Regions from separate parts of the Homo sapiens genome. Here all the other regions are linked to region 1. The links come from fine-mapping of genetic effects on gene expression. A gene starts in region 1. Each other region holds a variant in brackets. All regions are shown on one strand. Distances are from middle to middle.

Region 1 (11,396 bases):
AAGCCAACATTCAGATCCTTGGTTCCTTGTCTAGGTGTGATCTCAGCACTCCAGAGGGAATCCTAAGCTTCATTTTACATAGTTATAGAATACATTTATTGCTGGTATTAAAATATGAAATCTTTCAATGTATTTTTATCTTCAAATGTAAAGATGTTTGGCTGCTTAGACTTTAGGTAGAAAGAAATTCAAAAATATTTTCTTTGAAAGTTAAAATCTGAAACACTATGCAAGTAAATCTGAAATCATTAAGCATGTAAGTTCAATGAGTTTAAAAACATGAAAGTTTTACTTAAAGCAAAATACTTCTTTAGAAATTATGTTACTGTGATGTCCAGGTTTTTTATTTTAAACTGTTTAATCCTGTCCTCTTATACACTTACAAAAATATACTGAACAAAAAGAGAATTCAAAAATTTGTTTAGAATTACTTCTTTGTAAATATTACATAAATATTCATGTAGTCAAAAGACAGTATCATGTAGAAAACTGCATCATATACATGTTGTGATATATGTTCGTGTATGTACAAATATGTATACGCATACATGTACATATGTGTCAACTACCATTTTTCTTTTAATCAAAATTTTAAAGTACTGCATACACATATACCTACATAATAGATATATAAAAGTACTATTAGAACAAAGCTGTTTCCTCAAAGCTAAGCAGTTAAGGAACAATAGTAGCACTGTCCTCAAGATTTTTATGACTTATGTCTAATACTGAAAGTGTTAGTCAAAGAGTATGCAATTATAGTACCCAACCACATTCCATTTTGAGTATCATAAATAAAAACATATTGTTAAAATGTCATCATATATTTTAAATTATATGGAAATATCACCATTTCTTATAAGAAACAAGGAATAATTGAAATCTATACAATATTAGATGGTCTCCATTTACAATTAAACCAATAATAAAGGATCAGGGGAAAGGAGCCTACCTTCCATTGCCCTCTTAAAGAAGACCTTACAGCTCCCACAGGTAAGGACACCATAATGACAGCCTGATGCTTCATCCCCACAGATTAAACAAATCTTCTGAGGTAATGACTCGAAGCTGTATTGTGGGCTCTGGCTGGCTTCTGAATCCGGCCTTGAAATGCAAAACAAAGTACTCCATTTATTTTTAAGTGCACCACTATCTAATACTAAAGGTTTCTTAAACCAGTATTAACAGGGTGAAAGGAGATTTTAAAAACAGAACTGTATATATACACTTGAAAGACATGCAAACTAAACTTGGTAATAGACTATCCGTAACTGGATTCACCATACTTGCAAATGATTAGCCATTCATCAGTAGCACCAATATAAAAGAACAATAATTAGTGTATAATATTATGTCCTAGAAAGTTAAAGTCGGTTAAAAGGAAATCTTTCTACAAAACTCTTTATATAGAAACAATTTAGTCTTTGACAAATGAAATGTTATGTCCTTCCTGTCTGTATGCTGGGTCAAAACAAATATGGTTTGGCTTTAAAAGTTCGATGGTACTTTGCAATGTTTTGGTTTTGAGTTTTTAAAACACAACCCTGTAATCATTGCTTACTTAAGCAAGTATATGTTTGTCATTTTAAAGTATTGTCCAATACACTGACACTGTTTTGCCTATTCACAACATAAGATTCCAAACAGAGCATTCTTTTTTTACATTCCATTACTTCAGTATGCAAAGTAGTGTTTTTTAAACCTGTATATAAAAAAAATTGTAGTGAATAGCAAGCAATAATAAGAAAACGGTGCAATGCAGTGACAGGCGTTTAAATCCACAGTTTAAACATTTCCCACGTGAACTTAATTTTAATCTTGAGATTCTTAAGAAAACTGAGCCACTGAAGTGTTCAAATCCCTAAGATGGTGCTGCTTTCGGTTCTGGCCGGCCACCTCTCAAGTCCCACCCCTCCCGGGGGAACGGTGCCTTAACTCCTCTCCAAGACAAGCACTCCTGGTAAACGTCCTTCTTCTAAGAAAGAAGCATTTCATAAAGCCCCCAACTCGCCGCGCACTTTCTGCCCCACTGGGCTACAGCGGACCTAGTGTGACGCTGCACGTTTTAAATCGGGGTTGGTTCTGCTTCGGAATCTGGAAGATTCGGAAAGTTAAAAAACAAACAAAAAAACAGCTTTCAGGGAGGCACGCCCCAAAAATAGTATATTCTGCGCCCACCTTCGTGTCCCCAAGAGTGAGGAGAGGAGGGAAGAAGAAGGGAGGCAACTGCCCCTGTGCTGTGTCCCGCTGCCCACCCTCTCCGGCCGCCCCGGGGAGCGCAGCGGTGCGCTGGGGCTGGGGCTGAGGGTTGGCGGCCGCCGCCGCCAACGGAACCGCTACTCCCGGACGCGCTGGGCGTGCCCCGTCCCGGGCCCTCACCTCAGGTAGTTGAGATAGGGCGGGTAGACCTGCGGCAGGCCCTCCTTGAGCACGGCGGCCTGGTAGCCGAGCTGCGGGAGCCCGTTGAGGCCGAGTGCAGGGTAGAGCGCGGGGGCCGCCCCGGCGGCGGCGGCAGAGGCGGAGGTGGAGGGCAGGCCGTCCCGCGGGAGCAGGCAGCCGCTCGCGCCCGGCGCCTTGCAGGGCGGCGGCGCGAACGGGCCCTGCTGGGGCGGCGCGCCCTCCGCTTTGTACAGGATGCACTCCAGGGTCGACCCCGAGGAGGACGCAGACGAGACTGAGGCACTGGCGGGTGCGGCCGTCACCGCCGCTTCCCCGGGTCTGGATGGGGTCGCTCGCGGCGGCAGCGGGGGCGGTGGCCCCAACGGGAAATCCGGGAAGGCTGCGGGGTTGGCACCGGCCACAAGGTAGGAACGCGGGGAGCGCGCGGAGGCCTCCGCGCCTTCCTCCTCCTCCTTTATCTTTAGAGCGGGCGGCTGGAAGTCGCTATAGAGAGGGTACGCGTCGTCCTTGGGCTCGGCGTCGGGCGGGTACGCGCAGTCGGGGAAGTCGCCTACAGCGACCGGGGTGGACGAGGCACAGGGTGAACTCCGCGGCGGGGCAAAGGCGCTGGCAGCCCCGGCCCCGCCGTCGTAACTTTCGTCTTCCAGCAGCTGCCGAGTGCGGGCTGCCAATAAGGCGTGATTGAGAGGCAGGATAGGCACGTGGATGAAATCCATCACCGTGGTGGCCAGCGGGGAGCGCCCGGGCGCCATCGGCGCGTCCTGCTCCACCAGGGCGACCCTGGGCGCTGAGAAGCGGGAATCTTCCTTGGGGACCAGGGCGACGCCTCCTGCTGCCGCCCCCGGCGGGACAGCCGCGGCTCCTCCTCCAGCCGCCGCGCCACCCAGAGCCCGAGGTTTGCCCTTCAGAAGCGGACCCGCAGACTCCTCGGACTCAGAGCCATCCTCCTCCTCAACCTCCACCGCAGCGGCCTGCGGAGACGGCTTCACTGGGGCCCCGGACCAGTGAGGGCTCTCAGAGGCCGGGAGCAGCAGCTGCCGGGCTGGTGACAGGCCCCGGGGCAGCACTTTATGGGCAGCTGCCGTCCCGGAGCTGTCTCCAACCTTGCACCCGGACCGGCTCATGAGCGGGGACAACACCCGCTGGGTGGCGGGGGCAGCCGGTGGATCTTCGGGAAGTTCGGGGCCAAACAGGCACCAAGAGCTGGTGACCTCGCAGGCGGGAGGGCTGGGTTGGCTCTGCCCGGGACCTGAGGGCGCCAACAGAGTGTCCAAGACACTGTCCAGCAGTCCGCTGTCCTTTTCTGGGGGACTAGAACTGCTGCCTCCAGCACCCCTTGTAGCTTCAGCTCTGGAATATGCGCCCTCCACGTCCGACAGCGACTGCTGGTCCTGCGTCTTTTCGTCGGAGGGGTCCTGTCCCTGGCAGGGCCGAGGGAAGAGTAGCCCGTCCAGGGAGATAGGTATGGCCGAAACTTCAGGCAAGGTGTCCGAGGTCTGGCTCCCCGGGAACGGACCTGCGGCTGGGCGACACAGCAGTGGGGATCCGACCTCGGGGGAGGGCGGGCCGCCCGCCACGTGGGGAGCCCGGGGACCCTTTGCCTTCAGCTCAGTCATGACGACTGGACTCCCCTTTTCTCCTCCCCCGTCTCCAGGAGGAGGGAAAAGGGAAGGAGGAGGGGGTTTCGGGAATATAGGGGCAGAGGGAGGAGAAAGTGGGTGTTGAATGTGGCTGGACCGGAGGGATCTCCACCTCCTGGGTCGGGGGCGGGGGAGGGCGGCGCTGGTCAGCTCCTGCCCTTGGCCTCCATCCTGTCGTCAGGGGAACTGTGGCTGTCGTTTGTCCCAGCGAGCGGCAAGTGGGGAGCGCAAGAAAAAGTAGTAATTGTTAGGAGATCTCGTCTCCTAACTCGGGGAGTTCTCCAAGAGAGTTCTCCAACTTCTGTCCGAGGACTGGAGACGCAGAGTACTCACAAGTCCGGCACTTGAGTGGCTGCGGCTGCGACGGCAATTTAGTGACACGCGGCTCCTTTATCTCCCGACTTTTTCTCTGGCATCAAACTCGTGCATGCTGTGAAGCTCTCAGTCCCTCGCTGAGTTCCACTGCCCCCTCACTAAAACCCTGGGGCTAGTCGGACCTCTCGGTACAGCCCATTCCCAGGAAGGGTCGGACTTCTGCTGGCTCCGTACTGCGGGCGACAGTCATCTCCGAAGATCTCAGATCCCAGTAGTGCGGGAGCACTAGCCGCCTCGGGTTGTAGATTTCACTCAAATGACAAGTGAAGCTAGTTCTCATTGAGAATGCCACCCACACGCACAAATACAACAAGGCTTACCCCGATTAGTGACAGCTGTGGACTGGCCAGACAGCTTTCTAACAACGCCTCCTCCTCTAGGGAGGCCCCGCCCAAAGCCCCTCCCTACCCCAATTACCGGTAGGATCTGAAACTCTGGAGTTGGCATTTCCACCCGTTATTCTGAATGCTACTCTCAATAGCAGGTTCTTTGGGATGGAACCTCATAAGCATATTACGTTTTGTTTTGCAAATTAAGAATTATGCCCTATCTAATTGGAAAAATGAATAGATTCTATCAGAAGTAGAATTTTTGTCACCATTTTAAGATTTCAGTTTTGTAAAGATTTAACACAGAGGAAGACATTTGGCTACATTATCTTTTAAAATAATAAATGTATCAAGGACGATACTAAATAAGAGATTCTCTCCCTTATGAGTTCCATAAAAGTGAATGCTTTCAAGTTTCTCCTGCTGCGACCAACATGTCCTGCTCCTCTTGAGTATCCTCAGCGTGACAAAGAAATTTGGGAGTGGGAGATGGTAACACCTCTGTATCTATGATGGAAGTTTGGATGTTGTGTGCCACACTTCGATTTGTCTTAAGGAATGTGTTCCAATTTTTAGTAAATAGCACTTTAAGGAAAGTTTCCTTTAGCTCCAGCTTATACAGTGTGCTACATCATAACATCCTCAGTAGAGATGTTGAACAGTACTTTTTACCCTAAATATTCTTAGTCTGAAAAGTAATTATCTTTGAGCTTATAAAATGGATCCCCGCTAAATTCATGAAGTCAGTAGAAAAAGGGAAGAATATTGCAATATATATTTTAGATACACAGTCATAAACTGTATTTGACCCAAGACCATTGGGTATTTTAACATCATCTTAAATATACCTTGTTCAAAACAGAGTGAATGATTTGCAAATTTTCTTGTAGGACCTCAAGGTCTAGCTGTGCTAATGACTCATAGTTTATCTCAACCATGTATAAAGAATGCAGAAGACTCCAGAAGGTGGGGGAGCCACTAGAGGTAAGGAGCCTGGACCCCTCGATCATCTGGGGAGGGGCTATATGAGTGAGAAACAAACCTTTATCATGTTAGGTTACTAGGATTTGGAGTTGGTTGTTCTAGTAAATAGTTTACTCTGATTAATTTTAGATATGTGGAAGTTAGGCAGATAGAGGAAAGGTAAAGAGAATTCTGGGAAGCAGGTATAGAATGTTCACCGGGCATCAAATGGCAGGATATAATATGGCAACTGCAAGGGGACCATTATGAATAGAACAGGAGCAAGTGTGGGCACAGAAGTATATGAGACTAGAGAAGTAAACTAATTTATTAATATCATTATTGTTGTTTTCAGGCTTTCTCTTTCCAGCCTATCTTAAAACAGTTACCATGCTTTATTGAGGTGTAATTCCAGTATCATACAGCTCACTCAAAGTATCAGTTCATTGATTTTTCATGTACTCAGAGTTGTGCAACCATCAGCACTATTAATTTTGTAACATGAGTATGACTCTAAAATCTCAATACCCACTAGCAGTTATTCCACATTTCCGCCTAAATCTCCCAGCAGCCACTAATATGCTTTTTGTACCTGTGATTTGGCTATTTTGGATCAAGGTTCATCCATGTTCCACATGAATCAGTACTTCACTCCTTCACTCCTTTTTATTGACAAATAATATTTCATTGTATGGATAAACCACATTTTATTTATCCATCTCTATCAGTTGTTGGACATTTGGGTTGTTTACACCTTTTGGCTACCATGAAAAATCCTGCTAATGAACATTCATGTACAAGTTTTTGTGCAGCGTATATTTTCCTTTCTCCTGGATATATGCATAGGAGTGGAATTGCTGGTTCATATGGCAACTCTAGGTGTGGTCTTTGGAGTAACTGCCAGACTATGGTTCAAATGATTGTACTTCTTACATTTCCACCAGCAGTGAATAAGGGTCCTAGTTTCTTCACATCTTTGACAACATTTTTTATCTGTCTTTTTTGTTATAGCCCCCCAAGTGTGTGAAGTGGTATCTCACTGATTTATTTATATTTTCCTGATGGCTAATGCCACACAGTGTATAGAATTTGTAAAATCAGGACAGCATTGCCAGGTAGTCTTGTAAGCCTTTTACCTGTGTTAACTGTAATCCTTCAACAGTCTCACAAAATAGGTACTGTTATCCCAATTTCATAGTTGGGAAAACTGAGGCACAAGGTTACCCAGTATTATAAAGTTAAGTACTGTAACCCAAACCCAAGACATCAAATGACAGCCTTCTTAGGAGTGTGATTTTAAATGTCAGATGCCATATAATTTGATTTTCCGGTCGCTGCTGTAAAATTGGCACTTGGCCTCATTTTAAATCTGACAAACTATATTTGGCTTGATTTTGGTTGGTTATAATAATTCCCTTGTCAGAATGTCTGGGGAGGTTGTTTCCAAAAGATTGAAAATCTTGAAGTGGGAAAACAACAATAAAGATGTCCAGCATGTCCTAAATCACCATTATTCCATAAATTTTGATGCTGGGTGATTAGCATTTTTGGCACAGGAACTTCCCAAATGTATGAATCTTTGAATGAACAAAATTCACTGATTAAATTCAGGTGTGATGGGGCTAACTTCAAATATTCCTGAAGACTGTTTTTGGAGAAGAGGATTTAAATGTGGAAGTATTTTTTCTATAGTTTGGGGAAAAAAACCACTTTATCAAGATATAGTTGTCATATAATAAGCTGCATATATTTAAATTGTATAATTTGTTGTTAGACCTGTGAAACTAAAATGATAAACATACCCTTTGCCTCCAAAAGTTTCCTCATGCCATTTTTTAAATCCCTTCATACTGTTCTGTCCCATCCCCTTCCCCTAGTACTAATCACCACTTTCTGGCAAGCCACTAATCTGCTTTCTGTCACCAAATATTAGGTTTTTAAAAATATTTATATCTGATTTATTAAACATTAAATTATACATTTGCATATGCCTTTTAGGTCTGTTTGCTTTAGATGTTTTATTAATAGATTTTACTTTTGGGAAACGATTTTGGATTTACAGAAAAATTGAGCAGATAATATAGAGAATGCTCATATATCATTTGTACAATTTTCTCTGTTAGCATTTTAAATTAATAGGGTACATTTGTTACAATTAATGAACTAATACTGATAAATTGTTATTAACTAATATTCATAGTTTATTTAGATTTTCTTCATTTTCACTTAATGTCCTTTTTCCTTTCCAGGATTCCATCCAGGACACCACATTTAATTGTTATGATGTCTTGTGCTCCTCTTGGCTGTGAGAGTTTCTCAGATTTTCCTTGTATTTGATGACCTTGACAGTCCTTAGGAGTACTGGTGAGGTATATTGCAAGATGCCCTTCTATTGGGATTTGATGTATCCTCATGAGTAGACTAGGGTTTTGGGTTTTGGCGGGGTGGAAATCAAAGAGGTAATGTACTGTATTTATTACATCATATGAAGGGTACATATTGTCAACATGACTTATGACTGTTAATGTTGTTCTCCATCACCTGGCTGAAGTAGTGTTTGTCAGGTTTCTCCATTGCATAGTTACTCTTTTTTCCCTCTTTGCATACTCTGTACTCTTTGGAAGGAAATCATTATGAGTCACTTAAGGAAGTGTGGGGGAGTAGGGAGTTATGCTAGCCCTCCTTTGGAGTGGAGTATCTACATAATTTATTTGGAATTCTGTGAGGAAGATTTGCTTCTTCTCCCCCATTTACTTCTTTATTCAGTCTTTTCTTTGTATGGATTCATGAATACTTTGTTGCTCAAATTTTTCCAGTTTTTGGCACTGGGGGCTTTTTCAGTTGACTCTTGTGCTCCTTGACCCACTCTCTGTATTGTGTGTATGTGTGTGTATGTGTGGACTTTCCTACTTTCTGGTATTACAAGATGCTACAGACTCATCAGACTCATCTTGTATATTTCCTGCCCCAGTCGTAGAATCAGCCATTTATCCAAGGAAGTTTGAGACTTTTTATTTGAAACTGGTATAGAAATGAAGATCTGGGTGCCAAATAAATTAGGTTTTATTTCTTAGAATTGTATATAATATAGTGTATCTTTTTTTCATTTGGTTTCTCTCACTCAGCATAATTATTTTGAGATTCAGCTAAATTATAGTATGTATCAATAGTTAATTCTTTTTATTCTTTTTATTTATATACTATAGTTTGTTTATCCATTTAACTGTGGATAAATATCTGAGTTGTTTCCAATTTTTTTGGTATTATAAATAGAGCTACTATGAAAATGTTGTACAAGTCTTTGTATGAACATGTGTTTTCATTTTTTCTGGGTAAATACCTAGCAGTGAAATGGCTGGATAAATTAGTAGGTGCTGTGATATGAGTGTTTGTGTTCTCCCCAAATCTGTGTGTCAAAACCCAATCACCAATGTGATAGTCTTAGTAGGAGGAGGTGTTGGGGAGTGATTAGGTCATGGAGCACTGCCCTGCCCCTTCTACCATGTGAGTACACAATAAGAAGTTGCCATCTAGGAGCTACAAAGCAGGTCTTCACCAGACATTGAATCTGTCACCTTTATTGTGGACTCCCAGCCTCCTGAACTGTGAGAAATAAGTTTCTGCTGTTTATAAGCTACCTAGTTCATGGTATTTTGTTATAGCAGCCCAAATGGACCAAGACAATACATGTACATTTAACCGTCAAACAATTTTCCAAAGTGATTGTATCATTTTACATTTCCACCCAGTATATTAGAGTTCTAATTCTTCCAAAAGCTGGACAACAACTGATATAGTCAGCATTTTTAATTTTACCAATTCTAACAAGTAGATAGTGGTATCTCATTATGGTTTCAATGTGCATTTCATTAATGACTAATGATGTTGATCATGTTTTCATGTGCTTATTTGTGATATTTATATATTCCTCTTCTGTGTGTCTGTGTCTGTTCAAATCTTTTGTTTGCTTTTTTTTAAAAAATTGAATTGTTTTGTTATTGTTGAATTTTCAGAGTTCTTTATGAATTCTGTTAGAAGTCCATTGTCATATATGGGATTTGAAAGTAGTTTTTTCTAGCCTGTGGCTTGTCTTTAAGTTCTCTTAACAGGATCTTTTGAAGAGCAGATGTTTTTAATATTGATAAAGCCTCTTTATTTACATTTTTATGAATTATGCTTTTGGTGTCATAACTGAATATTCCTTGCTAAACCCAAGGTCATAAATGTTTTCTGTCATGTTTTCTTTTGGCTTTATAGTTTTAGGTTTTACATTTATATCTGTGATACATTTTAAAGTTACTTTTTAATATGGTATAAGGTCTAGATCAAAATTCACTTTTTTGCATGTGGATATCCAGTTGTTTCAGCGCCATTTGCTGAAAAGAATACCCCTTCACTAATTGCCTTTGCACCTTTGTTGAGAATTAGTTATTCAAATATGTGGAGATCTGTTTCTGTACCCTCCATTCCATTTAACTGTATTATTGGACAGTTTTTATGTCAATACATTTTCTTGATTGATGTAGCTGTAATTTTTTAAGCTGTTATTTTTTAAATCCCTCTGTATAAATGATAGCATTCTTCCTCTAACCTTCCAGCCCTGGGGGTGAGGAGGGGCAGCCCACAGCTGTTTGAGGGAAGAGACAGGATCGAAGGTGTGCTCTGAAGCTACAGATTGCATGAGAGGCAACCCATAAAGTTTCTAAGCAGAGTGGTAACAGTGGCCCCCCACTTCTGTTTCTGAACTACAGCTCTCAGCGTGTTGGTGACTTTGAACCCCCTCCCCAGAAATGGAAATGCCAAAATGGAAGAGCCCTCAGCCACCTAGCTCCCTTCCCAGTAGGACAGAGTTAAAGGCTAGACCATCTTCCCTCCTGGGTGGAGCCCCCCTTCCCCCCACGGATACTTAATGTACTAGTGCTCCAACTTTATTCTTCTTTTTCAAAATTGTTTTGTCTAGGTCATTTGCATTTTCATGTAAATGTTAGAAACAGTTTGTTAATATCTGCAAAAAAAACCCTTCTGCAATGTTGATTAGGATTGAGCTGAAATTATAGATGAATTTGGAGAGAACTGGCTTCTCACTAAAATTAAGTCTTCCAACCCATACAGGTAATATATCTCTCCTTCTCTCAGCAATGTTTTCAAGCTTTCGGTGTACAGGTCTTTCACATCTTTTGTCAGATTTCTCTCCAATTATTTCATATTTTTGCTGGTATTTTGGATGATGTATATATTAGCTTTCCATTGCTGAGTCAGGAAGTACCACAAACTTACTAGCTTGAAAGAGCACTCAGTTATTATCTTACAGTTTCCATGGGTCAGGAGTCTGGGCATCGGTTGGATGGATCCATTGCTTAGGGCTCACATGGCTGCAATCAGTGGATTAGCCAACACTGCGTTGTCATCTATGGCTTAGGGTGCCCATCTAGACTTATTCAGGTGACTGGCAGGCAGTGTTCAGTTCCTGGCAGCTGTAGAACTCATGTGACTTTCATCTTCTTTGAGGTCAGCAGGAAACAATTTTACTCATGCTTTTTAAGGGTTTCTGCCTGATTAAGTCAGACCCTCCCAGATGATGTCCATACCCATATTATCAAAACTGATCTGGGATTTTTTTTTTTTTTTTTTTTTTTTTTTGCAGAGTCTCATTCTGTTGCCCAGGATGGAGTGCAGTGGCATGATCTCA
Region 2 (8,000 bases), 59 kb before region 1:
CATATTGTTTCTATATGTCATTTGCTTTATGTGCATTTTTTTATGAATAAAATATATTAAAAAGTATGGCTTATTCTTAGGATACAAAATCAATGTGCAAAAATCACAGTCATTCCTATACACCAATAATAGACAAACAGAGAGCCAAATCATGAGTGAACTCCCATTCACAATTGCTACAAAGAGAATTAAATGCCCAGGAATACAACTTACAAGGGATGTGAAGGGCCTCTTCAAGGAGAACTACAAAACACTGCTCAAGGAAATCAGGGCACAAACAAATGGAAAAACATTCCATATTCATAGATAGGAAGAATGTATATTTTGAAAATGGCCATAGTGACCAAAGTAATTTATAGATCCAATAATAGCTCCATCAAGCTAACATTGACTTTCTTCACAAAATTAGAAAAAAATTACTTTAAATTTCATATGGAACCAAAAAAGAGCCTGTATAGCCAAGACATCCTAAGTCAAAAGAACAAAGCTGGAGGTATCATGCTACCTGACTTCAAACTATACTTCAACTCTACAGTAACTAAAACAGCATGGTACTGGTACCCAAACAGATATATAGAACAATAGAACAGAACAGAGGCCTCAGAAGTAACGTCACAAATCTACAACCATCTGATCTTTGACAAACCTGACCAAAAAAAACAATGGGGAAAGGATTCCCTATTTAATAAATGGTGTTGGGGAAACTGGCTAGCCATATGCAGAAAACTGAAAGTGGACCCCTTCCCTACACCTAATACAAAAATTAACTCAAGATGGACTAAAGACTTAAACATAAGACCTAAAACCATAAAAACCTTGGAAGAAAACCTAGGCAATACCATTCAGGACATAGGCATGGGCAAAGACTTCATGACTAAAACACCAAAAGCAATGGCAACAAAAGACAAAATTGACAAATGGGATCTAATTAAACTAAAGACCTTCTGCACAGCAAAAGAAACTATCATCGGAGTGAACAGGCAACCTATAGAATGGGAGAAAATCTCTGCAATTTATCCATCTGACAAAGGGCTAATATCCAGAGTCTACAGGGAACTTAAACAAATTTACAAGAAAAAAAAAACATCAAAAAGTGGGTGAAGGGTATGAATAGACACTTCTCAAAAGAAGACATTTATGTGGCCAAAAAACATGGAAAAAAGCTCATCTTCACTGGTCATGAGAGAAATGCAAATCAAAACCACAATGAGATACCATCTCACACCAGTTAGAATGGCGATCATTAAAAAGTCAGGAAACAACAGATGCTGGAGAGGATGTGGAGAAATAGGAAAGCTTTTACACTGTTGGTGGGAGTGTAAATTAGTTCAACCACTGTAGAAGACAGTGTGATGATTCCTCAAAGATCTAGAACCAGAAATGCCATTTGACCCAGTAATCCCATTACTGGGTATATACCCAAAGGATTATAAATCATTGTACCATAAGACACATGCACATGTATGTTTACTGCAGCAGTATTCACAATAGCAAAGACTTGGAGCCAACCCAAATCCTCATCAGTGAGAGACTGGATAAAGAAAATGTGGCACATATACACCATGGAATACTATGCAGCCATCAAAAGGGATGAGTTCATGTCTTTTGCAGGGACATGGATGAAGCTGGAAACCATTCTTAGTAAATTAACACAAGAACAGAAAACCAAACACTGCATATTCTCTCATAAGTGGGAGGTGAACAATGAGAACACATGGACACAGGGAGAGGAACATCACACACCAGGGCCTGTTGAGGGGTGGGGAGCTAGGGGAGGGATAGCACTAGTAGAAACATCTAATGTAGATGATGGATTGTTGGGTGCAGCAAACCACCATGGCACATGTATATCTATGTAACAAACCTGCATATTCTGTACATGTATCCCAGAACTTAAATTAAAAAAAAAAAAAGTAGAGTGGTTGCTGGCTGGCAAGATGGCTGAATAGGAATAGCTCCGGTCTGTAGCTCCCAACGCGATCAACACAGAAGGTGGGTGATTTCTGCATTTTCAACTGAGGTACCCACCTCATCTCATTGGGACTGGCTAGACAGTAGCTACAGCCCATGGAGAGCGAGCTGAAGCAGGGTGGGGCATTGCCTTACCCGGGAAGTACAAAGAGTGGGGAAACTCCCTCCCTTAGCCAAGGGAAGCCGTGAGTGACTGTGCTGTAAGGAACAATGTGTTCCGGCCCAGATACTATGCTTTCCCCATGGTCTTTGCAACCCACAGACCAGGAGATTCCCTTGGGTGCCTAAATCACCAGGGCCCTGGGTTTCAAGCACAAAACTGGGCAGCCATTTGGGCAGACAATGAACTAGCTGCAGGAGTTTTTTTTCATACCCCAGTGGCACCTGGAATGCCAGTGAGACAGAACCATTCACTCCCCTGGAAGGGGGGCTGAAGCCAGGGAGCCAAGTGATCTAGCTCAGCAGATACCATCCCCACAGAGCCCAGTAAGTTGAGATTCACTGGCTTGAAATTCTCGCTGCCAGCACAGCAGTGTGAAGTCGACCTGGGACGCTGGAGCATGGTGGTGGGAGGGGCGTCCACCATTACTGAGGCTTGAGTAGGCAGTTTTCCCCTCACAGTGTAAGCAAAACCACCTGGAACTTCAAACTGGGCAGAGCCCACTGCAGCATGGCAAAGCTGCTGTAGCCAGACTGCCTCTCTAGACTCCTCTCTGGGCAGGGCATCTCTGAAAGAAAGGCAGCAGCCCCAGTCAGGGGCTTATACATAAAACTCCCATCTCCCTGGGACAGAGAACCTGGGGGAAGGGGTGGCTGTGGGCGCAGCTTCAGCAGACTTAAACGTTCCTGCCTGCTGGCTCTGAAGAGACCAGCGGATCTCCCAGCGCAGTGCTCAAGCTCTGCTAAAGGACAAACTGCCTCCTCAAGTGGGTCCCTGACCCCTGTGCCTCCTGACTGGGAGATACCTCCCAGCAGGGGTCGACAGACACCTCACACAGGAGAGCTCTGGCTGGCAATCTGGTGGGTGCCCTGCTGGGATGAAGATTCCAGAGGAAGGAACAGGCAGCAATCTTTGCTGTACTGCAGAGTCCGCTAGTGATACCCAGGCAAACAGGGTCTGGAGTGGACCTCCAGCAAACTCCAGCAGACCTGCAGCAGAGGGGCCTGACTGTTAGAAGGAAAACTAACAAACAGAAAGGAATAGCATCAACATCAACAAAAAGGATGTCCACACAAAAACCCCATCTGAAGGTCACCAACATCAAAGACCAAAGGTAGATAAATCCATGAAGATGAGGAAAAACCAGTGCAAAAAGGCTGAAAATTCCAAAAATCAGAATGCCTCTTCTCCTCCAAAAGATCACAACTCCTCACCAGCAAGGGAATAAAACTGGACGGAGAATGAGTTTGACAAATTGACAGAAGTAGGCTTCAGGAGGCGGGTAATGACAAACTCCTCTGAGTTAATGGAGCATGTTCTAACCCAATGCAAGGAAGCTAAGAACCTTGAAAAAAGGTTAGAGGAATTGCTACCTAGAATAACCATTTTAGAGAAGAACATAAATGACCTGATGGAGCTGAAAAACACAGCACAAGAACTGTGTGAAGCATACACAAATATCAGCAGCCAAATTTATCAAGCAGAAGAAAGGATATCAGAGATTGAAGATCAACTGAATGAAATAAAGCATGAATACAAGATTAGAGAATAAAGAATGAAAAGGAACAAACAAAGCCTCCAAGAAATATGGGACTATGTGAAAAGACCAAACTTACGTTTGATTGGTGTACCTGAAAGTGACGGGGAGAATGGAACCAAGTTGGAAAACACTCTTCGGGATAGTATCCAGGAGAACTTCCCCAACCTAGCAAGACAGGCCAACATTCAAATTCAGGAAATACAGAGAACACCACAAAGATACTCCTCGAGAAGAGCAACCCCAAGACACATAACTGTCAGATTCACCAAGATTGAAATGAAGGAAAAAACG[T/G]TAAGGGCAGCCAAAGAGAAAGTCGGGTTACCCACAAAGGGAAGCCCATCAGACTAACAGCAGATCTCTCTGCTGAAACCCTACATGCCAGAAGAGAGTGGAGGCCAATATTCAACATTTCTAAAGAAAAGAATTTTCAACCCAGAATTTCATATCCAGCCAAACTAAGCTTCATAAGCAAAGGAGAAATAAACTCCTTTACAGACAAGCAAAAGCTGAGAGATTTTGTCACCACGAGGCCTGCCTTACAAGAGCTCCTGAAGGAAGCACTAAACATGGAAAGGAACAACCGGTACCAGCCACTGCAAAAACATGCCAAATTGTAAAGACCATCGATGCTAGGAAGAAACTGCATCAACTAATGGGCAAAATAACCAGCTAGCATCATAATGACAGGATCAAATTCACACATAATACTATTACCCTTAAATGTAAATGGGCTAAATGCCCCAATTAAAAGACACAGACCAGCAAACTGGATAAAGAGTCAAGACCCATTGGTGTGCTATATTCAGGAGACCCATCTCACAGGCAGAGACACAATATGCTCAAAATAAAGGGATGGAGGAATATTTACCAAGCAAATGGAAAGCTAAAAAAGGCAGGGGTTGCAATCCTAGTCTCTGATAAAACAGACTTTAAACCAACAAAGATCAAAAGACAAAGAAGGCCATTACATAATGGTAAAGGGATCAATGCAACAAGAAGAGCTGACTATCCTAAAAATACGTACTCAATACAGGAGCATTCAGATTCATAAAGCAAGTTCTTAGAGGCCTATGAAGAGACTTAGACACCCACACATTAATGGGGGAGACTTTTAACACCCTACTGTCAATATTAGACAGATCAACAAGACAGAAAATTAATAAGGATATCCAGGACTTGAACTCAGGCTCTGGACCAAGTGGACCTAAGAGACATCTACAGAACTCTCTACCCCAAATCAACAGAATATACCTTCTTCTCAGCACCACATTGCACTTATTCTAAAATTGACCACATAATTGGAAGTAAAACACTCCTCAGCAAATGTGAAAGAATGGAAATAATAACAAACAGTTTCTCAGACCACAGTGCAATCAAATTAGAACTCAGGATTAAGAAACTCACTCAAAACTGCACAACTACATGGAAACTGAACAACCTGCTCCTGAATGATTACTGCATAAATAATGAAATTAAGGCAGAAATAAATAAGTTATTTGAAACCAATGAGAACAAAGACACAACATACCAGAATCTCTGGGACACAGCTAAAGCAGTGTTTGTTTAGAGGGAAATTTATAGCACTAAATGTCCACAGGAGAAAGTGGGAATGATCTAAAATTGACACGCTAATATCACAATTAAAAGAACTAGCGAAGCAAGAGCAAACAAATTCAAAAGCTAGCAGAGGACAAGAAATAACTAAGACCAGAGCAGAACCGAAGGAGATAGAGACATGAAAAACCCTTAAAAAAAAAAAATCAATGAATCCAGGAGCTGGTTTTTTGAAAAGATTAACAAAGTAGATAGACCACTAGCCAGACTAATAAAGAAGGGAGAGAAGAATCAAGTAGACACAATAAAAAATGATAAAGGGGATATCACCAGTGATCCCACAGAAATACAAACTACCATCAGAGAATACTATAAACACCTCTATGAAAATAAACTAGAAAATCTAGAAGAAATGCATACATTCCTGGACACATACACCCTCCCAAGATGAAACCAGGAAGAAGTTGAATTCCTGAATAGACCAATAACAAGTTCTGAAATTGAGGCAGTAATTAATAGCCTACCAACCAAAAAAACCCCAGGACCAGACAGATTCATAGCTGAATTCTACCAGAGATACAAGGAGGAGCTGGCACCATTCTTTCTAAAACTATTCCAAACAATAGAAAAAGAGGGAATCCTCCCTAACTCATTTTATTTGGTATCATCCTGACACCAAAACCCGGCAGAGAAACAACAAAAAAGAAAATTTCAGGCCAATATCCCTGATGAATATTGATGCAAAAATCCTCAATAAAATACTGGCAATCCAAATCCAGCAGCACATCAAAAAGCTTATCCACCATGATCAGGTCAGTTTCATCCCTGAGATGAAAGCCTGGATCAACATACGCACATTAATAAACGTAATCCATCACATAAACAGAACCAATGACAAAAACCACATGATTATCTCAATAGATGCAGAAAAGGCCTTTAACAAAATTCAACACCCCTTCATGCTAAAAACTCTCAATAAGCTAGGTATTGATGGACCGTATCTCAAAATAATAAGAGCTATTTATGGCAAACCCACAGCGAATATCATAATGAATAGGCAAAAGCTGAAAGCATTCCCTTTGAAAACCAGCACAAGACAGGGATGTCCTTTCCCACCACTGCTATTAAACATAGTAGTGGAAGTTCTGGCCAGGGCAATCAGGCAAGAGAAAGAAATAAAGCGTATTCAAATAGGAAGAGAGGAAGTCAAACTGTGTCTTTTTGTAGAGGACATGATTGTATATTTAGAAAACTCCATCATCTCAGCCCAAAATCTCCTTAAGCTGATAAGCAACTTCAGTGAAGTCTCAGGATACAAAATAAATGTGCAAAAATCACAGGCATTCCTATACACCAATAATAGACAAACAGAGAGCCCAAACATGACTGAACTCCCATTCACAATTGCTACAAAAGGAGTAAAATAGCTAGGAATACAAGTCACGAGAAATGTGAAGGACCCCTTCAAGGAGAACTACAAATCAACGCTCAAGGAAATCAGAGAGGACACAAATGGAAAAACACTCTATGCTCATGGATCAGAAGAATCAATATCATGAAAATGGCCATACTGACCAAAGTAATTTATAGATTCAATGCTATCCCCAACAAGCTAACATTGACTTTCTTCATAGAATTAGAAAAAACTACTTTAAATTTCCTATGGAACCAAAAAAGAGCCCATATAACCAAGACAATCCTAAGCAAAAAGAACAAAGCTGGAGGCATCAGGCTAGCTGACTTCAAACTATACTACAAGGCTACAGTAGCCAAAACAGCATGGTACTGGTACCAAAACAGATATATAGACCAATGAAGCAGAACAGAGGCCTCAGAAATAATGCCACACATCTACCATCTGATCTTTGACAAATCTGACCAAAAAAGCAATGGGGAAAGGATTCCCTATTTAATAAATGGTGTTGGGGAAACTGGCTAGCCATATACAGAAAATTGAAAGTGGACCCCTTCCTTACACCTTATACAAAAATTAACTCAAGATAGATCAAAGACTTAAATGTAAGACTGAAAACCATAAAAACCCTAGAGGAAAACCTGGGCAATATCATTCAGGACATAGGCATGGGCAAAGACTTCATGACTAAAACACCAAAAGCAATGGCAACAAAAGACAAAATTGACAAATGGGATCTAATTAAACTAAAGACCTTCTGCACAGCAAAAGAAACTATCATCAGAGTGAACAGGCAACCTACAGAATGGGAGAAAATTTCTGCAATTTATCCATCTAACAAAGGACTACTATCAAGAAGCTACAAAGAATTTAAACAAATTTACAAAAAAAAAAACAAAAAACAACCCCATCAAAAAGTGGGCAAAGGATATGAACAGACACTTCTCAAAAGAAGACATTTATGTGGGCAATAAACATGAAAAAAAAGCTCATCATCACTGGTCGAAATGCAAATCAATACCACAATGAGATGCCATTTCATGCCAGTTAGAATGATGACCATTAAAAACTCAGGAAACAATAGATGCCGGAAAAGATGTGGAGAAATAGGAAAGCTTTTACGCTGTTGGTGGCAGTGTAAATTAGTTCAACCATTGTAGAAGACAGTGTGGTGATTCCTCAAGGATCTAGAACCAGAAATACCATTTGACCCAGCAATCCCGTTACTGGGTATGTACCCAAAGGATTATAAATCATTGTACCATAAAGACACATGCACACGTATGTTTACTGCAGCACTATTCACAATAGTAAAGATTTGGAGCCAACCCAAATGCCCATCAATGATAGACTGGATAAAG
Region 3 (8,000 bases), 33 kb before region 1:
TTTAGTCTCTCCAGTCCAGTGATGTCCTGCTCTCTCATTATTTTTCCATCCAAAAAAGTTCCAGCACCAAAAAAAGGAACCCTAGCTCACTCTAGATTCTCCCTGAATACATTCCCCTTTTTTTGGTCCTCAAAGTTGTCGAAAACATCATCTACATTTGCTGTTTCTACCTAACTTCCTTTATTCCTATGTGGTAATTTGACTTGTATATTCACTATTCTTATAAAATGGCTTAACATCATCAAATATTTTTTCATTCCTAAATGCTGTGAATGCTTTCCTGACCTGAATCATTTGCTTCAGGTAATTTCTTTCCCCACCTGTCCCATTGATTCATATTTTGGGGCCTCTCTTTTCTGACTCTTGACCTGTCTTTCCAGCACTTCCTTTTAAATTCCCTTTGTCAACTCCTCTTACTTTGCTTATTCCTTATATGTGGTGTGCCACTGCACACACTTTGTGGGTAGTCTGTCTCATTATCTTCTGATGGTCCCAAAATCTCAATATGAGCTCTGACCTTCCAGTCATATTTCTAGGTACCTCAAACTCAATATATACAAAATACAACTAAGTGGTTATCTGTACAAATTATATCATGAATTGTATTATTAGAGAAATTATATAAGAACGTAAGGAAATTCAAAACAGAAAATAACCTACAATTTGATAATCATGCATCTATTCTCATTTTTGCTTCCTTCTTGCTATGGTTTGAATGTTTGTGTCCCCTTCAAAATTCATATTGAAACTTAATCCCCAATGTGACAATATTAAGAGGTGGGGTCTCTGCCTCCATGGATGGAATCAGTACCCTTTTAAAAGGGCTTGAGGGAGTGAATTTGGTCCTTTTTATCCTTTCTGCCATGTGAGGATGCAGCAAGGGGCGCCATCTTGGAAGAAGACAGCAAGCTTTTACCAGACATGGAATCTGTGCCACCTTGATCTTGGACTTCTCAGCCTTTAGAACCATCAGAAAATATTTCTGTATTTATAAACTACCCAGTCTAAGGTATTTTTTTATTGCAGTGGAACAGACTAAAGTATTTCCAAACTGTCTATACAAATCTAAATGGTATTTAATATCTATTTGTTAATATTTAAGTTAATGTATTTATACTTTTATAAAACTCTCATTCATTCAACAAGTATTGAGTATCTACTATATCCCAACACTATTTACTGACTAATCCATGTTTTCCCCCACTAAATTAAAATGCCATCTTAATTGCTGACACTACATTGTAGTACCGAAGAGCAAAGTTACAGAGGCCAGACTGCTTGTTCAAAGCTCAGATCTGCAACTTACTATCCACAAATAAAAATAATAAAAGAACAACAGACAATTATTAAGCACTTACTATGTGCCAGGCATTGTTATGAGCTATTGACATATATTAACTCATTTCATCATCAAAGCAACCTTTGGAGGTATTAATATTCTCATTTTATACAGAGTTAACTGAGGCATCTAGAAGTTAAATAACATGCTCAAGGTCACACAGTTAAAACATTTTAGGTTAATTATCTTGAGAGGTAGTATAGAAAGTTACTGTTTAAGTGTGAATGTCAATCTCATCACTTAGTAGCTAGATGACATTTGGCAATTAAAATGAAGATAACATTAGTACCTTGGATTGGATCTAAGGAATACACAAGCTCATGTAAGAGCTTAGAATAGTCTGGCACATAGCAAGTACTTAACAAATGTCTATTATAATTATGATTATCACACATCTAAATCTCAAATATAGTTAGATTTTTTCTAGATGTGGTCCAAGAAGTCTATATCTAGTCAAGTTATTCAGTTTTAAAGGCAACTTAAAGATATTCTCAAACTTGCATGAAATTGGGAAATAAGACCCCAGTATGCTCTTCCAAAAGATGTAATCCAGTCAACAACAGATACGTTATAGCAGACAATGTATGAGGTAGGAAGTCTGGTATGAAGAGACTGATGATAAGTACCAAATAAATTTAAACATAAGTATAAATTTAAACATGAGTATAAATAAGGAAATTATAGTTACCAAACAGAATGCAATTCTTATAAGTTTGGAAGAAAAAATGACTTAGATGTCCAATATTTAAAGTTTGAGTTGGAAGGATAATTTTTAATAATTAAGGGCACTGGCATGAAGTCACGACCTTGAGGGGTTGGCACGACTCATATCATTGTAGACTGCCTGTGACAGGCTGGAATGGCTTAAAGAAATCTGGAAGCTCAATTCACTCTAACTTTTCATCATCTTTAACATTAAGTGATGAGCCATCAAAACTGCAAAGTAGATGCATTATCATGCAAACAAAATATGGGGAGTACAGTTAAAGGTTTATCTTCTCAAGCAATGTTTTGGCTTAAAGAAATGTTGTAGCCAGCCAGTTCCAACTAGAGCCGACTAAGGGAATTTGGCATGGGGCCCAGGCATTGCCTCTGAACCATAATGCATGGCCAGGACTCAGAGCCACCAAGAATGCAATGAATGCAGTGGGAGCCACTCGCTACTTCAGGTACCTGGCTGTATATGCAGGTGAAGAAAGGTCAGGCACAAGTGCATTAGCCCTGTCACAACATTTTCCTGGAAATCTAGAAAAAGATGAAAATCTAACATAACATCAGTTGCTACCATTTTCTTCAGACAACAGCCCACAGTTTATATTCTGGTTTTGAGAAACACATCCCTGTCTAGATCCACTCACTCACTCATAAACCGTAGGTTGATGGCTCAAATTGCGTATTATTTCTTCTCCTCAGTCCAACATAACATTGTGATTCTACAACAAGTGTAAAACACGTCACTATATTAAACCACTCAGAGCATTCCATTTGCTGCCATCTTTGCTGTTTACCTACATTATCACCACCAGGAGTTATAAGACATTTAGGAACACTTATAAGCTATAAGCCACCACAAACAGGTTACATGGCATAATGATAAATAGGGGAGTTCACCCCACTAGGAGCCACTATCTAGCTCTCTCCCTTAATATATGCATCATCTGCCCCTGTTGAAACCTGGGGAGCTTAATAGAGCACTATGCTTCTTTCTCCTTGCAAAACTGATCTATTTTAGGGTGGGGAAAGCAGGGGGTGAGTTCAAACTGTTATGTCTTTTCTTTCTAATCACATACTCTTTCCCATGTTCTTTATGCTCCAGAGTACTAACATCCTTGGATTACCCCCAAACTCTCTCATGCCTCTATGACTTTCCTCCCTTCCTTCCAATTTATCAACTTAACAAAATCTCACTCGTCTTTCAAGCCTTGGCTTAACTGCTCCCCTCATCTGGTCTTACCTGACTGCTCTCATAAAGGCTTTAGACATTTCTTCTGTGTACCAACTGCACATTCAATGTATTCCTATTGTATACTTTGTGTCTATAGCTACTAGGTTCTATAAGAGTAGGAACTACTCAGTTTGATACTTTTAACTCTTGTGTAAAATACAGCTTGATAAATATTTTTTAGATAGGTGTATATACAATTATACCTATTGTTTCGCTTATATTTGTAAATATAGTTATACTCAACAGTATAAGACATATGTCACTTATTGTCATATATAGTAAATAGTCACTTGCTTCTGATTTTTTACCACCTTTTAACTTTTTTTCTTACAGAATGCTTTTTATTCAGTAATTTCTCACCTTTTTATAGTAATAGACCATAATTAAATGTGAAGTCTAACAAGATTATTTCCAAGTGTTACTCTTTTTTTTTTTTTTTTTGAGCGGAGTCTCGCTCCGTCGCTCAGGCTGGAGTGCGGTGGAGCCATCTCAGCTCACTGCAAGCTCTGCCTCTTGGATTCATGCCATTCCCCTGCCTCAGCCTCCCGAGTAGCTGGAACTACAGGCGCCCACCACCACGTCTGGCTAATTTTTTGTATTTTTAGTAGAGATGGGGTTTCACCGTGTTAGCCAGGATGGTCTCGATCTCCTGACCTTGTGATCCTCCTGCCTCGGCCTCCTGAAGTGCTGAGATTACAGGCGTGAGCCACCGTGCCCAGCCCCAAGTGTTACTCTTAATAAAAAATACTCTGTGAAAATAAAAGCACTATCAAAATGTGATTAGATCATTTTATTTGCCTAGTGACTTACAAAAATTTTAGATGACAAAATTCCACTTTAAAGGAAATAAAATATCTTTATTAGGAAATAAAATATCTTTATTAGAAACAAGAAAGGGACTTACCTGTAAAATAAGAGACCTATATTGTTTGTGTTGCTTCTCAATATGAGCACAAGTGAACATAGTTCACTTAGGTCTGAGAGAGTTCACAATTTTTCATGGCATTTTTGAAAAGAAGGGGAAAATACATAGTCAAATGGCAGGAAATAATATATGTTCAGTAGTTTAAGGAATGAAATAGTGAAAGTCAGTATGGTATGACCCACAAGTCACGGGCTTGAAGCAACATGAGCTGGTCCATATGAGGGCAATCTTTCTACCACAAACACAGAAATACTGGATAAAATATAATAGAAGCATGTTGCTTAATTTCAGTCTGGAAAAAAAGGTAGGTAAATCTCTATAAGCCAGAAAAGAAAAAAGAAATGAAAGCTGGAGGAACAAACTTAACTGGACTCTGCAGTGATCCAAAAAAGTTTCAGATACAGATATAAGAAATGCCTAAAAGATAAGAAATGGGGTTTAAAGCCCATGAGAGGATGGGATATATTACTTCAGTCCCAATGGAAGAGAGTGGCAGGGCTGAACTATATGCATAAAAATGTAGAACCTTAAAAG[A/G]CTGCCTTAGCAATGAAAACAGGGCTAGAAAACACTACACAGAAAATGCCAGGCAGCCAGGAATCTGTCCAAAATTCAGGGTGAGGACAAAAATCATTTATGCCAAAAACAACATAAACAAAATAAAATATTGGCCTTTAATGGGAGGTGAATTTTCACTATCACATGGTATAGGAACCTGGGCCAAGGAACAAAGACTGGTACAGGACCAGTGAAATTGCCAGGGTCCTTGGAGAGGCAAATGAAAAGCTTATCTGTAGGGACAGGTGTGTCCACATGCAAAAAATAAAAGATTTGTACAAGAATATTTATAGCAGCAGTGTTCATAATAGCCTCAATCTGAAAACAACCCAAATGATCACCTACAGCATAATGTGTAAACAAATGGTTTTATTTATTCAATGCATTATTATACAGCAATGAGAATAAATGTCTAGCTCCATGCAAAATGTGGATGAACTACATAAGTATAATGTTGTGTAAAATAAGCAGACATAGAAAAATACTATCTGATTCCATTAATATAAAGTTCTAAAATAGTTCAAACCAATCTATCATGTTAGAAATTGGGATGGCGGTTACTTTTGGGGAATGATTGGAAGGGGCAAAATGGAGCTTCTGGGAACCTAATGATCTTTAAATTTTTTGGTCTGGGTGATAATAACATCGTTTCATTTACCTACTGATAAGCTCTACATCTTTGAGTGCTTTTCTGAAAATATTTATCAATAAAAGTTTCTTTCTTTTAAAAACTGGCTCCAGCTAAGAGGACAACCTAGAGAGTATTGTGATCCAACAGAATCTGTGTAGGGTCAGTCAGCGGAAGTCCAGAAGCAGAGGGTCACGGTCATGTCCAGAGAGAAGAGAGGTGTCTACTGCATTACAGCATTACAGGATTACAGTTAGAGGCTCTCAGTAAAGTATCTCCATGAATCTCACCAAAGTATCCCACTAGAGGAAGAGCAGCCTGTAATCACCCACCAAACACAGATAACCCCAGTGACACTAAAATTCCTACTTGTTGTGTAAAACTGTGCTCTCTAACTTCTCTTCCCACACGTTGGCCCTGGAAGGGTCAAAATCAGCTGTCATTGGGTGAGTGTAGGCAGCATAAACAGAGAAGAAGCAGATCTTATTTGTTCTTCCCTTTAGGCTTCAAGCTCAAAGCAGTGAGTGCTGAATTGGGGCAAAGAAGAAATCTAAACTTAGAAGAGGATTTGTAAATTTGGCATAATGCTTCCCTGGGCATTTTGATTACTGATATGGTTTGGCTTTGTGTCACCACCCAAACCTCATCTTGAATTGTAATCCCATAATCCCCCCATGTTGTGGGAGGAACTCAGTGGGAGGTAATTGAATCATGGGGGTGGTTTCCCCCCATGCTCTTCTCGTGATCATCATGAGCAGTGTGATCAATCAGTGAATTCTCATGAGATCTGATGGTTTTATAAGAGTCTAGCATTTCCCCTACTGGCACTCATTCTCTCTCCTGCTGCCTTGTAAAGAAGGACATGTTTACTTCCCCTTGGGCCATGATTGTAAGTTTCCTGAGGCCTTCCCAGCCATGTGGAACTGTGAGTCAATTAAACCTCTTTCTTTTATAAATTACCCAGTCTTAGGTATTTCTTCACAGCAGCATGAGAACAGACTAATACGGTTAGTGGAATGAGATTGTTCTTCTGATTAAAATCTTTGGGACTGGCCTAAGATTTTATGCAGGAGATGGAAGAACTAGTCTACAAAGCAGGTTTTGTTGTTAGAGGTAATAATGCTGATACTAGTATTTTGAATCCACACACACACACACACACACACACACACAATACATACAGATAAAACAACTAGTAATTATTTTGATTTTGCTAGAAATACAAACATAAACCAGTAATTCTCAACTAGAGGCAATTTTGCTCCCTTCCTCACCAGGACATTTCACAATATCTGGAGACAATTTTGGTTTATGCAACTAGAGGGTAGGTATTATTGCAGAGAGGCCAAAAAGGCTAATAACATCCCATAATGCACAGGACATCCCCCCCTGCAACAATTATGTGGCCCAATAGGTCAATAGTGTGAGGTTGAGAAATCATGGTATAAACTCATGATCCCCTTACTTTTTCAAAAAGAGGTATTTTCTAGGTCTCTTCACTGAAAATGCCCAAAAGTAAAGACAACTCCAGCAGGAATTCAGATTTTCACATGTAATATAATTTTCATCTAAAACGAACCAGAGCTCCTTGGGGAAATGACTGATCCAGGACTAGGGCAGGAAATGTGCAAGTTGAGCCTGGGATGCTTTGCTGTGACAGATGATTTGCTTTTACTGAGGGCTAATAAAATTGTGTTTCATTGACCACTGATAATTCACACCAACCAAAATTAAAACCACTTGAACATCAAAAAGAACTGGTTCAAGTAATTAAAACACATTGAATATATATTTTAAAAAACATGAGTACATAATGATATGTAAGAAGAGAAAGAATGAAAGAAACAAGAGGAACTCACTGGAAACCACTGGAGATTACTAGGGCACAAACTTAACAACTTTGAAAACTGAAAATTAAAAGTAAATAATAAGTATCTGTTAGGCTTTCCATTATTAAGTGTATTTTAAGATTACCAGATTGCCTCTTGGAAGAGAGAGAGAACTATTAAAAATATTTATAGCTGATAAAATCAGAAGGGATAATAGAAATAGAGAATCATCCTTTTGCAATTCCTAATGAAATGGCCACCACTTGTCAAGTCTGAAAAGACAATTAAAATACTCCTCCATTTTCCAACTACATATCTGTGTGAGGCCACATTTCCTTCCCATGCTTCCACCAAAACAACATATTGGAACAGATTGACTGTAGATCCAGATATGAGAATCCAGCTGTCTTCTATTAAGATAGACATTAAAATGACTTATAAAAATGTAAAACAATGTCATTCTTGTCATTAAATTTTTTGGTTTGAAAAATTAGTATCTAATGGGTTTGCTGTTTTTTAAATGAGCTAATAAAAAGTTTTAAAACATTATGAGTTTTAATTTCTAACACAGTAAATACTGAGAGAGAGAATTCACGTATACAGAAGCTCTTTGGGCTTGTAGCAATTTTTAAGCACATAAGGGGGTCATGAGATCAGTGTCTGAGAACCGTTGGCCTGTGTAGGATTCTTGTCAAAACGTTTAACTGGCATATAATTATGTGGGGGAAAAATCAGACAAAGCCAGATTATGGAACTTTCTACAAAACGGCTGGCCTAGA

Alleles and levels. Alleles are on the strand shown, and positions count from the first base shown. SD is a standard deviation of normalised expression in the study named.
As copies of G replace T in region 2, the expression in esophagus muscle of the gene that starts at base 4,759 in region 1 goes down (small effect, 0.17 SD a copy in GTEx).
As copies of G replace A in region 3, the expression in tibial artery of the gene that starts at base 4,759 in region 1 goes up (small effect, 0.39 SD a copy in GTEx).

What was found. PIP is the estimated chance that this variant, and not a neighbour inherited with it, causes the effect.
Region 2: its variant is fine-mapped to the expression of PGR in esophagus muscle (GTEx, PIP above 0.99).
Region 3: its variant is fine-mapped to the expression of PGR in tibial artery (GTEx, PIP above 0.99).

The regions. Positions count from the first base shown.
Region 1 is chr11:101,125,055-101,136,450 of GRCh38, forward strand. It overlaps PGR (progesterone receptor), which reads right to left and starts at 4,759. Exons shown (of 8, transcript NM_000926.4): 1 at 2,380-4,759; 2 at 953-1,104. The coding sequence starts at 4,016. It also overlaps PGR-AS1.
Region 2 is chr11:101,068,099-101,076,098 of GRCh38, forward strand. All of the region lies in intron 3 of PGR (progesterone receptor), which reads right to left. Among named protein-coding and RNA genes, the nearest start is that of PGR, 58 kb to the right of the region's middle. The variant T/G (reference allele first, on the strand shown) is at 3,963.
Region 3 is chr11:101,094,071-101,102,070 of GRCh38, forward strand. The region is part of intron 2 of PGR (progesterone receptor); the gene reads right to left. Among named protein-coding and RNA genes, the nearest start is that of PGR, 32 kb to the right of the region's middle. The variant A/G (reference allele first, on the strand shown) is at 4,744.